2 separate regions of the Homo sapiens genome follow, and region 1 is linked to region 2. Evidence: fine-mapped expression QTL. Tissue or cell type: whole blood. Region 2 holds a variant in brackets; the other region holds the start of a gene. All regions are shown on one strand. Distances are between the middles of the regions.

Region 1 (5,114 bases), 56 kb before region 2:
TCCTAAGCCTTGCTTTCATCTCTTTACAATGAGGGGGTAGGAATATACCTCTAAAGTCCTTTTCAGCTTGAATAATTGATATAAATTATTTGCATTAAAAAAAATCAGACCTCAGATGTAGGAGGATTCACCTTTCTTCCTAGAAGCCAGTGAGACCACAGAACCCTGGGAACTCAAAAGGACTTTAGATGTGAGAATGGTCAGTCCTCATGGGACCAATGAGCACTTTTAAAATGTAGCTAGTCCAAAATGAGGTGTGCTATAAGTGTAAAATACACACTATATTTTGAAGACTCAGCATGAGAAAAAGAATATGAAATATCTCAAGAAAACATTTATATTGCTTTATATTGATATTTTTATATATTGGGTTAATTAAAATATTAAAATTAACATCATAGACCAGGCATGGTGGCTCACACCTGTAATTCCAGCACTTTGTGAGGCTGAGGCAGAAGGATCCCTTGAGCCCAGGAGTCTGAGACCAGCTTGGGCAACATAGCAAAGCCTCATTTCTTAAAAAAAATAAAAATAAAATAAAATAAAAATAACATCACCCATTTCTTTTACCTTTTTAACATGGATCCTAGAAAATGTCAAATTACAATGTGGCTTGCATTGTATTTCTATTGAACAGCACTGGTTTAAGGAGAAACTGAAGACCAGAGAGTAAATGACTTTTCCACAGAGCCAGAACTGGAACCAGGGTCCCCTGACTTCTCATTCGAGGCTCTTTCCACTCTTAATAGGCTGTGGTGGCCATTCTTCAAGATGGCCCCTAATAATCCTCACCTTCTGTTGCCCTAGTGCAGTCCCTTCCACACTGAACAGGGCTCATCTGTTAGAAGACTACAGAAATGCCTGTGTGACTTCTGAGGCTGGGTCATAAAAAACATTGTGGCTTCCAGCTTGTCTCTCTTTGGCATGACTTGCTCTAGGGGAAGCCAGTTGCCCTGTCATGAGAACAATTAAGCAACCCTATAGGGAGGTCCACACGGTAAGGAACTGAGGCCTCTTGTCAGCAACCATAACCAACCACGCAAGTGAATGCACCATATGGAGCGCTGATCCTCCAGCCCAGCCAAGCCTTTGAATAAGTGCAGTTCCAGCTGACATCTTAACTGCAAGTTCGTGTGAGACCCTAACCTAGAAACACCCAGCTAAGCTTCCCCCAAATTCCTGACCCACAAACGAGATAATTAATGTTTACTGTTAAGTCACTAAGTTTTGATGATTTGTTACACAGCAACAGATAATACGCAGCCTTACAAATTTAGAGGTCTCATATAAGAAAAACTCACTTCTATCTTTGGCATTTGTACAGTGTGAGAAATTATTCTTATCCTTCCTCCAGTCTTTGGCCTAGCTCAGGGTAACCCAACTAAAAACTGCTAAATTATCAAACTTGGGGAATCAAACCCAGGAAGGTAAGATCCCATTTTATTCTTAGAAGGTTCTTCCCTTTTCCCTTTATTGCAGAAAGAACCCAGGTCTCTTGAGAATGAAAAAGCACTACATCACATCACCTTCACCTGGGCCATTCAGAGATTTGATTCCCACAAAATCAAAGGAACTAGAGCCCAGAATTGCTCAGTTAGACACAGTATTGAGGAAGCAACAATTGAGAAATGACAATCTATGACATCAACAATCGAGAAATAACAATCTATGACATCTGAATTTCTCTGAGACACTGCTGTCAATAGCAGTGCTAATGTTTTATATAGCATGTGTTGCTTTTCACAGTATTGTCACATCTAGTATCTCTGAGGTAGGTGGGGAAGATATAAATAAAACAGGATACATATGAAAATAGTGGCTCAGAGCTCATGGTATGTCCTTAGTTTCATGATCAGTGAATGACAGGCCAGGTCTAAAATCTGGGTTTCAGTAGGTGACTCAAGTCAGACTTCATGCTTCCCAAGGCAGGAGCATCCTGGCTGTTATGAGTACTCTTCAGTTGGGGCTGTCCTCTGAGATCAGTGTGCACTTGTAGATCTCCTTAAAGGCCACAAGGAAAGGTGGCATTACTTCTTCCACGGTGACGTGCCTCTGGAGCTCCTTACTCAAGGAAGTGACGCCTGTCCCAACCAGTCCACAGGGCACGATGTGCTCAAACCACGTGAGGTCGGTAGAGCAGTTGAGAGCCAGGCCGTGGGATGTGATGTGCCTTCCACAGCGGACTCCTGCAAGGCAAGCCAAAGGGTCTTAGAGTAGATACCCTCCACTCTCCGGGCTTTGGTGTCCCTCTCAGGGCGATGAGAAAACTGGATTAGATCACCGGTTTTCAAATTTTGTTTCTGGAGAAACAAGGGATTGTACTCAGATGGGAAAAGGAAACAAATGAAAGGAAGGGGTGCGTGGCTTCAAGCAGCTGCACTCATCATGAGGATTCCAGGAAATGTCTTTTAACAGATTCCAATACTTAAAAAAAAAAAAGCTTGGGGACAGGCGCAGTGGCTCACGCCTGTAATCCCAGCATTTTGGGAGGCCGAGGCGGGCGGATCACGAGGTCAGGAGATCGTGACCATCCTGGCTAACACGGTGAAACCCCATCTCTACTAAAAATACAAAAAATTAGCCGGGCTGGTGGTGGGCGCCTGTAGCCCCAGCTACTCTGGAGGCTGAGGCAGGAGAATGGCGTGAACCCGGGAGGCGGAGCTTGCAGTGGGCCGAGATTGCGCCACTGCACTCCAGCCTGGGTGACAAAGCGAGACTCTGTCTCAAAAAAAAAAAAAAAAAAAAGTTTGAAAATTAGCACCCTTATTTGCCATGACATTGTCATTCGCAGGACGTAACCTGGCAATTCACTTCTCTTGTCTCTCCCTTAACAGAAATGCGTGTTGGACTAGATGTGAGGAGCCTTCTGCTTCTGAATATACGATATCTGAAAAGGGGCTTAAAAACTCAAACGCAGCGGGTAGCTGTGATTCAAAACCCGCGCTAGATACGCCTCCTCCCGGCCCTCACCTCCGTTGGTCCAGCCCCGTCAGACCCCGCCCCCAGGCCTCAAGCTCCGACCTCGGCTCTCAGGTACCGCCCTGCTCCGCGGCGCTCACCGATCGCGCAGATCTTGCGATCGTCTAGCCAGACGCCAGTGTAGGGCGGGGGCCGCGCGCGGGCGTCCTGCAGGCCCTGGAGCTCGCACAGGCGCACGGCGCACGCCTCCAGCGACGCTACGTGCATGCGCAAGCGCAGGCCGAGACGCCGCAGGTCGAGTACCGGGTGGCAAAGCAGCTGGCCCGGGCCGTGGAAGGTGGCCAGGCCACCGCGGCCTGTGACGCGCACCTCGGCGCCCAAGGCCCGTAGCCGCGCAGTTTCCTCGGGCGTCAGGCCGCCGCGCAGCCCGGCCGTATACACGGGCCCCGCGGGCTCGCAGAGCAGGAGCGCGCCCGCCTCAGTCCCCGACGGGGCCTCAATGCCTGGCTCGGCCTGCAGCCGCCGCAGCCAGCGGTCCTGCAGCCCCAGTAGCTCGGCGTACGGCACCCGACCCAGGCGCACCAACCGAACGGCGGGTTGCCGCATCGTGCCCACCGTTGCGTCCGCGGGGCCCCGCCCTCTCCGTGGGCCTGGGGGCGTGGCCTGAGGGGCGGGGACTCGGGGGCACACCCCGAGCCGCAGCTCCCAGGTGCGTGTTAAAAGCTGGAGGGGGGATATGTGATCCCAGGACCAAAAGCGCGGGGCCAGACTCATCGGTTCATTCAACAACCAGTATTTAGTGCCTGCTGTGTTCTGCAGGCCCTGCCATAGGCGCTTGATACAGCGGTGCATAGCGTATGAGAAAGATCTGTCCTGGTAAGCTTACATTCTTACAGCAGACGATAAGTATTTTAAGTGTTAAGTAAATAAGGTTATTTCACGTATAAGGTGTTAAATGCTATGAAAAGAAAAATAAAACAGGGTAACGTGGTGTGTCCTGTGTTGAGCCCCTGGGGGACGCAAGAGGGAGATTAGCTTGCCTACAAGGTTATTGGTGGAGGTAGGGAGAACTTAAAGATCAGCACCTGTAAGAAAGTGAAGGAAGCAGGAATTTGTAGGCAGAGGAAGAAGTTGGCCTGCAAAACAGTTGCAGCAGAGGCCTTGACCAATCCCAAGGCATGCTTGGAGCCTAGGATGACCCTTCAGAGTAGTTCCACATTAAAGCAAGGGGGCCAGAAACTCTTATCCTTGCATTGACCAGTCATGGATACAGGCTACACCTGGGGAGGAGCTGTGATTTTTTTTTTTTTTTTTTTTTTGGCAAGACTGCTTCCCTCGGTGGAGGGCGGCCCCCAGAGAAGGACTCAGTTGTGTATCATCAGTAACCAACTCCAGAAGCTGAGGGAATGACTGTCTAGGCCCTGAGGGGGTGTCTGGACCACAACATCAGCTATGTTGCAGTTAGAGTATCATTTAAACAAGTCTGAATTCAATGAATTTTTACTGAGGACTTTTCAGACACCATAGGTGTCTGAAAAACATTTCATAAACATAGACATAAAGATCCTAAGCAAATATTAGCAAATCAAATCCAGCAATTTATAAAAGGATTAATACATCATGATGAAGTAGGGTTTATCCCGGGAATGCAAGGTTGGTTTTGCATTCTGAAATCAAACAATGTAATTTACCTTAAAAGAGAAAAGCCTTCATTGGAAGAAATAATAAAAATTTTTTTTAAAGAAAAGCTATGATTATGTTAAAAAATACAGATAAATCTATTGGCAAAAATAAACACCTCTTCTGACCAAAATACTTAGCAATCTAGGAATAGAAGAGAAATTTTCCAGTCTGATGAAGGGTTCAAATTATCAATCAGGGTTTGGACAAGAGAAATCACATATGTACTATTTTAATTAAATGTTTTATTTGAGAAAATTGGACACTCATATGCAGTTGTAAGGAATAATATGGACAGATTATATGTACCCTTTACCCAGCTTCCCCCAATGGAAACACCTTGCAAAACTGTAGTACAATATCACAACCAGGATACTGACATTGATAAAGTCAAGATGCAGAACATTTTCATCACCACAAGGATCCCTCATGTTGCTCTTTGTAGTTACACTGCTTCTTAATTCCTGGCAAACGTCTGTGTTGTATAGATGGAATCATACAGAGTGCAACCTTTT
Region 2 (5,203 bases):
AATGTATTCAGCATTTGGGAGGTATAGGAGAAACTAACTGTTTCTATTATGGAAATCGAGTGACTATAATGGAATTGAGTGACTATTGCTAAATTCATGGATATGTTAGAAAAAGACAATAAAAAGCTGCAGGCATTTAACAGGCAATGAAAGCCAAATGTGAAAGCTTACAAAGAGGCTTTCAATTCCTACAGCAAGAAGGCAGAAAAAGCTGAAGACCTGAGCTGGGAATTAATACAGCCATCAAGCTCCAGAGAAAATTAAATGACCACGATAGGTCCAATACGCTAAGGTTAGTAGAACTCTGGCACTTAGGATGGGGACATGTGGGTATATTTTGAACTCCCAGACTCCTCTAAATCCTCTGAGCATTCAGAAGTTGTGCCCTTCTCCTCTTAAGAGCTAGCACCCCCACCTCCCTCGCTTGTTTGAAGGCAATGCAGAGAACTCAGACCCTCAAGATAAAATGTGCCTCCCTCATGTTGTGCCAAACCCCTATCAACTCCAGTGGGGATGGCACCAGGTTCAAGAGGCCAAAAAAGAGACCCAGAGCCAGCAAATGAGACATGGGGTTTTACTGGGGGCTTACATACAGGGGAGAGTCCAGCAGCGGCGGGCTGGACAAGAGAACAGGTCCAGTGGTGGTGAACAGGTCCAGTGGTGGTAGGCTGGGCGGGAGAATTGCAGCCGCTTGCAAAAGGCCTGCAGTTTCTATAGCATGTTCACTTAGTACCCTCCCCCTAACAACCTCCACCTGACAACCTTCATTTAACCCTAAACCCAATGCTTTGATCCCCTGTACAGCCCGTGTTCCACGGGATGCGCCAGAGGCTCAAATGTTCCTCATTGACAAGAAACGAGTCTGTGGTTTGGCCACTTCCCAATTCCCTAGCTCAGAACACACATTCAGGTGTGTTTGCCATACAGGGTCATTCTCAGGGTAAGCTTAAGTTATTGCTGTCAGGTGTTCTTACCATACACCTCTGGATCTGCCCCACCTCTGTTGCTAACCACAAGGACTACAACTAGAGTTAAGTCATGGGCCGGGCCACAGTGGCTCATGCCCATAATCCCAGAGCTTTGGGAGGCAGAGGCAGGAGAATTGCTTGAGGCCAGGGGTTTGAGACCAGCCTGCACAACATAATGAGACCTTCATCTCTGCAAAAAAAATAATAAATAAATAAAATAAAATAAAATTACCTGAGCATGGTGATGCACCTCTGTAGCCCTAACTACTTGAGAGGCTGAGGTGGAAGGATCCCTTGAGCCGTGGAGTTTGAGGCTGCAGTGAGCTATTATTGCACCACTGCACTCCAGCCTGTGTGACAGAGAAAGACCTGATCTCTTTAAAAACAAACAAACAAAAAACCCAGAAATTTATTCTCACACGGTTCTGTTGGTCAGAAATCTGAAATCATTTTCACTCAGCCAAAATTAAGGTGTCAGGCCAAGGTCATATGTAATGCGTGTGATTACATTTAGGGCCCACCCAGGATAATCTCCTCACTGCAAGATCCTTAACTTAATTACACCTGCAAAGACACTGTTTCCATATAAAATAACATTTACAGGTTTCAAGGATTGGGATCTAACATCTTTAGCGGCTACTAGTCAACCTACTACAGGGGCAAATCTGGGTTTTCTCTCTTGTCTCAACAAGGAAGTGTGGTCTTTGGAAAGGAGTAAGGAGACAGAGACTTTGTTTGCACAGTGACACAATGAAGAAGTTGTGTTTTGGGTGGTAGGTATTTACTTATTTATTTATTTAGAAATAGAGTTTCACAGCCTGGCGCGGTGGTTCACGCCTGTAATCCCAGCACTTTGGGAGGCCAACGTGGGTGGATCAGGAGGTCAGGAAATTGAGACCATCCTGGTTAACACGGTGAAACCCTATCTCTACTAAAAATGCAAAAAATTAGCCGGGTGTGGTGGCGGGTGCCTGTAGTCCCAGCTACTCGGAAGGCTGAGGCAGGAGAATGGTGTGAACCTGGGAGGCGGCGCTTGCAGTGAGCCGAGATGGTGCCACTGCACTCCAGCCTGGGTGACAGAGCGAGACTCCGTCTCAAAACAAAACAAAAAAACGAAATGGAGTTTCACTCTTTCACCCAGGCTGGAGTGAAGTCATGCCATCTCAGCTCACTGCAACTTCTGCCTCCTGGGTTCAAGTGATTCTTATGCCTCAGCCTCCCAAGTAGCTGGGATTACAAGTATGCACCACCATGCCTGGCTAATTTTTGTATTTTTAGTAGGGACGGGGTTTCTCTATGTTGGCCAGGCTGGTCTTGAACTTCTGACCTCAGGTGATCTGCCCGCCTCAGCCTCCCAAAGTGCTGGGATTACAGGCGTGAGCCACCACACCCGACCAGTAGTTAATATTTTAAAAGAAGATTTGGTTTGTCATGTGATGTTTCATTCTGCAGGAGCTGAAGGACGCAAGAGTCTCCAAATGATGTGTAGCTTTTCAAAGATCTCGTGCTTCCTCTTCCATGATGAGGGAGTTCTACAAGGAGGTAGAAGTTTAAAGAGACCAAGAAAATGGTTAGGGAGAAGAGGGAGGGAGACCAAAGAGAGGCAGAGAGAGAGAAAATGCAATTGGTCAAATGTTTCCTGGGACTGATCTGCATTCACACACCCTCCCAGTTGATCTAGGCATTGTGTTTATTCTTCCCAGGTGATGGAGAGGTGTTCCTGCGGGTGACTGTAATTACAGGCTATAGGAGGTGGGGTACAGATAGTCAGAGATTGTTAAAATCAGCTCTGTCCATTCAGCAGAGAGGATAGTTCACACATGCTAATATTTCATGCACCAGAGACTTCACTAGATGCTGGTGCTTAAGCTAGGCTGTGTAGGCTGAGAAGTATTCAGACAAGTTATGAGAAGAGTGTTCAGGCAGGGCCAGTGGCAGAGGTAAGGAAAATCAGCCAGGCGCGGTGGCTCACACCTGTAATCACAACACTTTGGGAGGCCTGAGGTCAGGAGTTCGAGACCAGCCTGGCCAACATGGCAAAACCGTCTTTACTAAAAATACAAAAATTAGCCAGGCACCG[TG/T]GGGGGGCGCCTGTAATCCCAGCTACTTGGGAGGCTGAGGCAGGGGAATTGCTTGAGCCCTGGAGGCAGAGGTTGCAGTGAGCTGAGAACACACCACTGCACTCCAGCCTGGGCTACAGAGTGAGACTCCGTTTCAAAAAAGAAGTAAGGAATCTCAGAGGTACTAGGACTCTTGGAGAAAGACATTTCTAGAGCATAGCACTAGTGGGGGGCAGTGGATTAATCTACCCTTTCAGCCTGATAATCTAGCCCCAAGCACTATTAGACACATTACTTAAGGAAGCAGTTAATAACTTCACACAGCATTTCAACTTGGTGGGTCAGTCCTAAGTGTGAATTTTGTTTTTCTTCACTGACTCTAACACAGTTATTGTCTTTTTGGTCCAATATTATCAAATTTCATTACCTTGTTAATCGCCAGATTTTTTTTTTCATTTTTAAATAAGTGAAGCATATGTGGAATTCTAAAGAACTCAGCTCATTTATTTCCTTTGAAAAATCTTATTCCTGCACCAATAAACATCATTATAATGCACCCAGCCAATTTCATTTCAGAACAAGTTGGTACATTACTCAAGTATTGATCACTTGCTTTGTCATCTTATCAGTTAATTATTGTTATGGTTACAAGTTCCTCAGACTTGAGGCTTGGTGATATTTTCTCTTTCTTCTGGATCAGCACATGGAGTACAGCACACAGCCCATAATAGGCCATTAATAAGTGTTAATTGATATTTCATACCTGAGTTGGGCCAAAGCATCAAATTCTTTATGTCAAGGTACAGTTTTAACCTAAATGTAATAATAATAGTATAATAAGCCTTAACTTTAGCCTCAAAGTCATTAAAAATCTAACTTTTTGGAACACTCATTTTTAGCTTATTATCTTTTTTTGTAACAAATGCCATTGTCAGAGGAGTGTGAACCAGAGCAACTCCATCTTAAATAGGGGCTGGGTAAAATAAAGCTGAAGCCTACTGGGCTGCATTCCCAGACTGTTAGGCATTCTAAGTCACAGAATGAGATAGGAGGTCGGCACAAAATACAGGTCATAAAGACCTTGCTAATAAAACGGGTTGCCAGTAAAGAAGCCAGCCAAAACCCATGAAAACCAAGATGGCGACAAGAGTAACCTCTGGTCGTCCTCACTGCTACACTCCCAACAGCGCTGTCACAGTTTATAAATGCCATTGGCAACGTCAAGAAGTTACCCTATATGGTCTAAAAAGGGAAGGTATGAATAATCCACTCCTTGTTTAGCATATAAGCAAAAAATAACCATAAAAATGGACAACCAGCAGCCCTTGGGGCTTCTCTGTCTATAAAGTAGCCATTCGTTATTCCTTTACTTTCCTAGTAAACTTGCTTTTACTTTATAAACTCACCCTGAATTATTTCTTGCTTGAGATCCAAGAACCCTCTCTTGGGGTCTGGATTGGGACCCCTTCCCTGTAACACAATGACTCATTTTGTTTATAATATAGGCAAAATTATAGAATGCTGGAATTGTGAGGAATTTTAGGGATAATCTAGCCTAAAGCTCTCATTTTATACCACGGGAAACTGAGGACCAAAGACATAAAGTAAAAGTTGGGTGTGGTGGGTCAGATCTATAATCTGGGCTTGAGGCCACGAGACCAGCCTAGGCAAGAGAACCTGTCTCTTGAAGAATTTTTTTTTTAATTTTAATTAGCCAGACCTGGTAGCATGACTGCAGTGCCAGCTACTTGGGAGGCTGAGGTAGGGGGATCACTTGAGATCAGTAGATCGAGGCTGCAGTGAGCTGCGATCATGCCACTGCACTCCAGCCTGGGCGACAGAGGAGACTCTGACTCAAAAAAAAAGAAGTGACGTGCCCAGGGTCATACAATGGGGATCTGAGCTGGAGGAAGGGGCAGGTCAGCTGAGCAGCTGACCAAGACCCCAGTTTATAACAGATGCCAAAACATCCCTGGGTACCAAAGTATTGCTAGAAATTTAACAAGGTGGGCAAAATTGTGTATATCAGAACTCTTCTGGGACAGAGTACTCTAGTTGTTGTAAGGAATACTGTGATGAATAATGAAAGATGAGAATGAACAACAATGAATGTTCACTCAGCAGTTTCCTAAGGAGATGGGGTTGGACAAACAAACGGCTTTTGTTTTGCAGAAT

What was found. PIP is the estimated chance that this variant, and not a neighbour inherited with it, causes the effect.
Region 1: LIPT2-AS1 starts here. The variant in region 2 is fine-mapped to the expression of LIPT2-AS1 in whole blood (INTERVAL, PIP above 0.99).

Annotation. Positions count from the first base shown.
Region 1 is chr11:74,490,179-74,495,292 of GRCh38, forward strand. LIPT2-AS1 (LIPT2 antisense RNA 1) reads left to right here and starts at 3,202. Exons shown (of 2, transcript NR_171028.1): 1 at 3,202-3,795. It overlaps LIPT2 (lipoyl(octanoyl) transferase 2), which reads right to left and starts at 3,546. Exons shown (of 2, transcript NM_001144869.3): 1 at 3,060-3,546; 2 at 341-2,186. The coding sequence starts at 3,525. The coding sequence ends at 1,957. RefSeq lists silencers at 3,312-3,421, 3,532-3,781.
Region 2 is chr11:74,546,003-74,551,205 of GRCh38, forward strand. No RefSeq gene overlaps it. Among named protein-coding and RNA genes, the nearest start is that of POLD3, 44 kb to the right of the region's middle. The variant TG/T (reference allele first, on the strand shown) is at 3,049.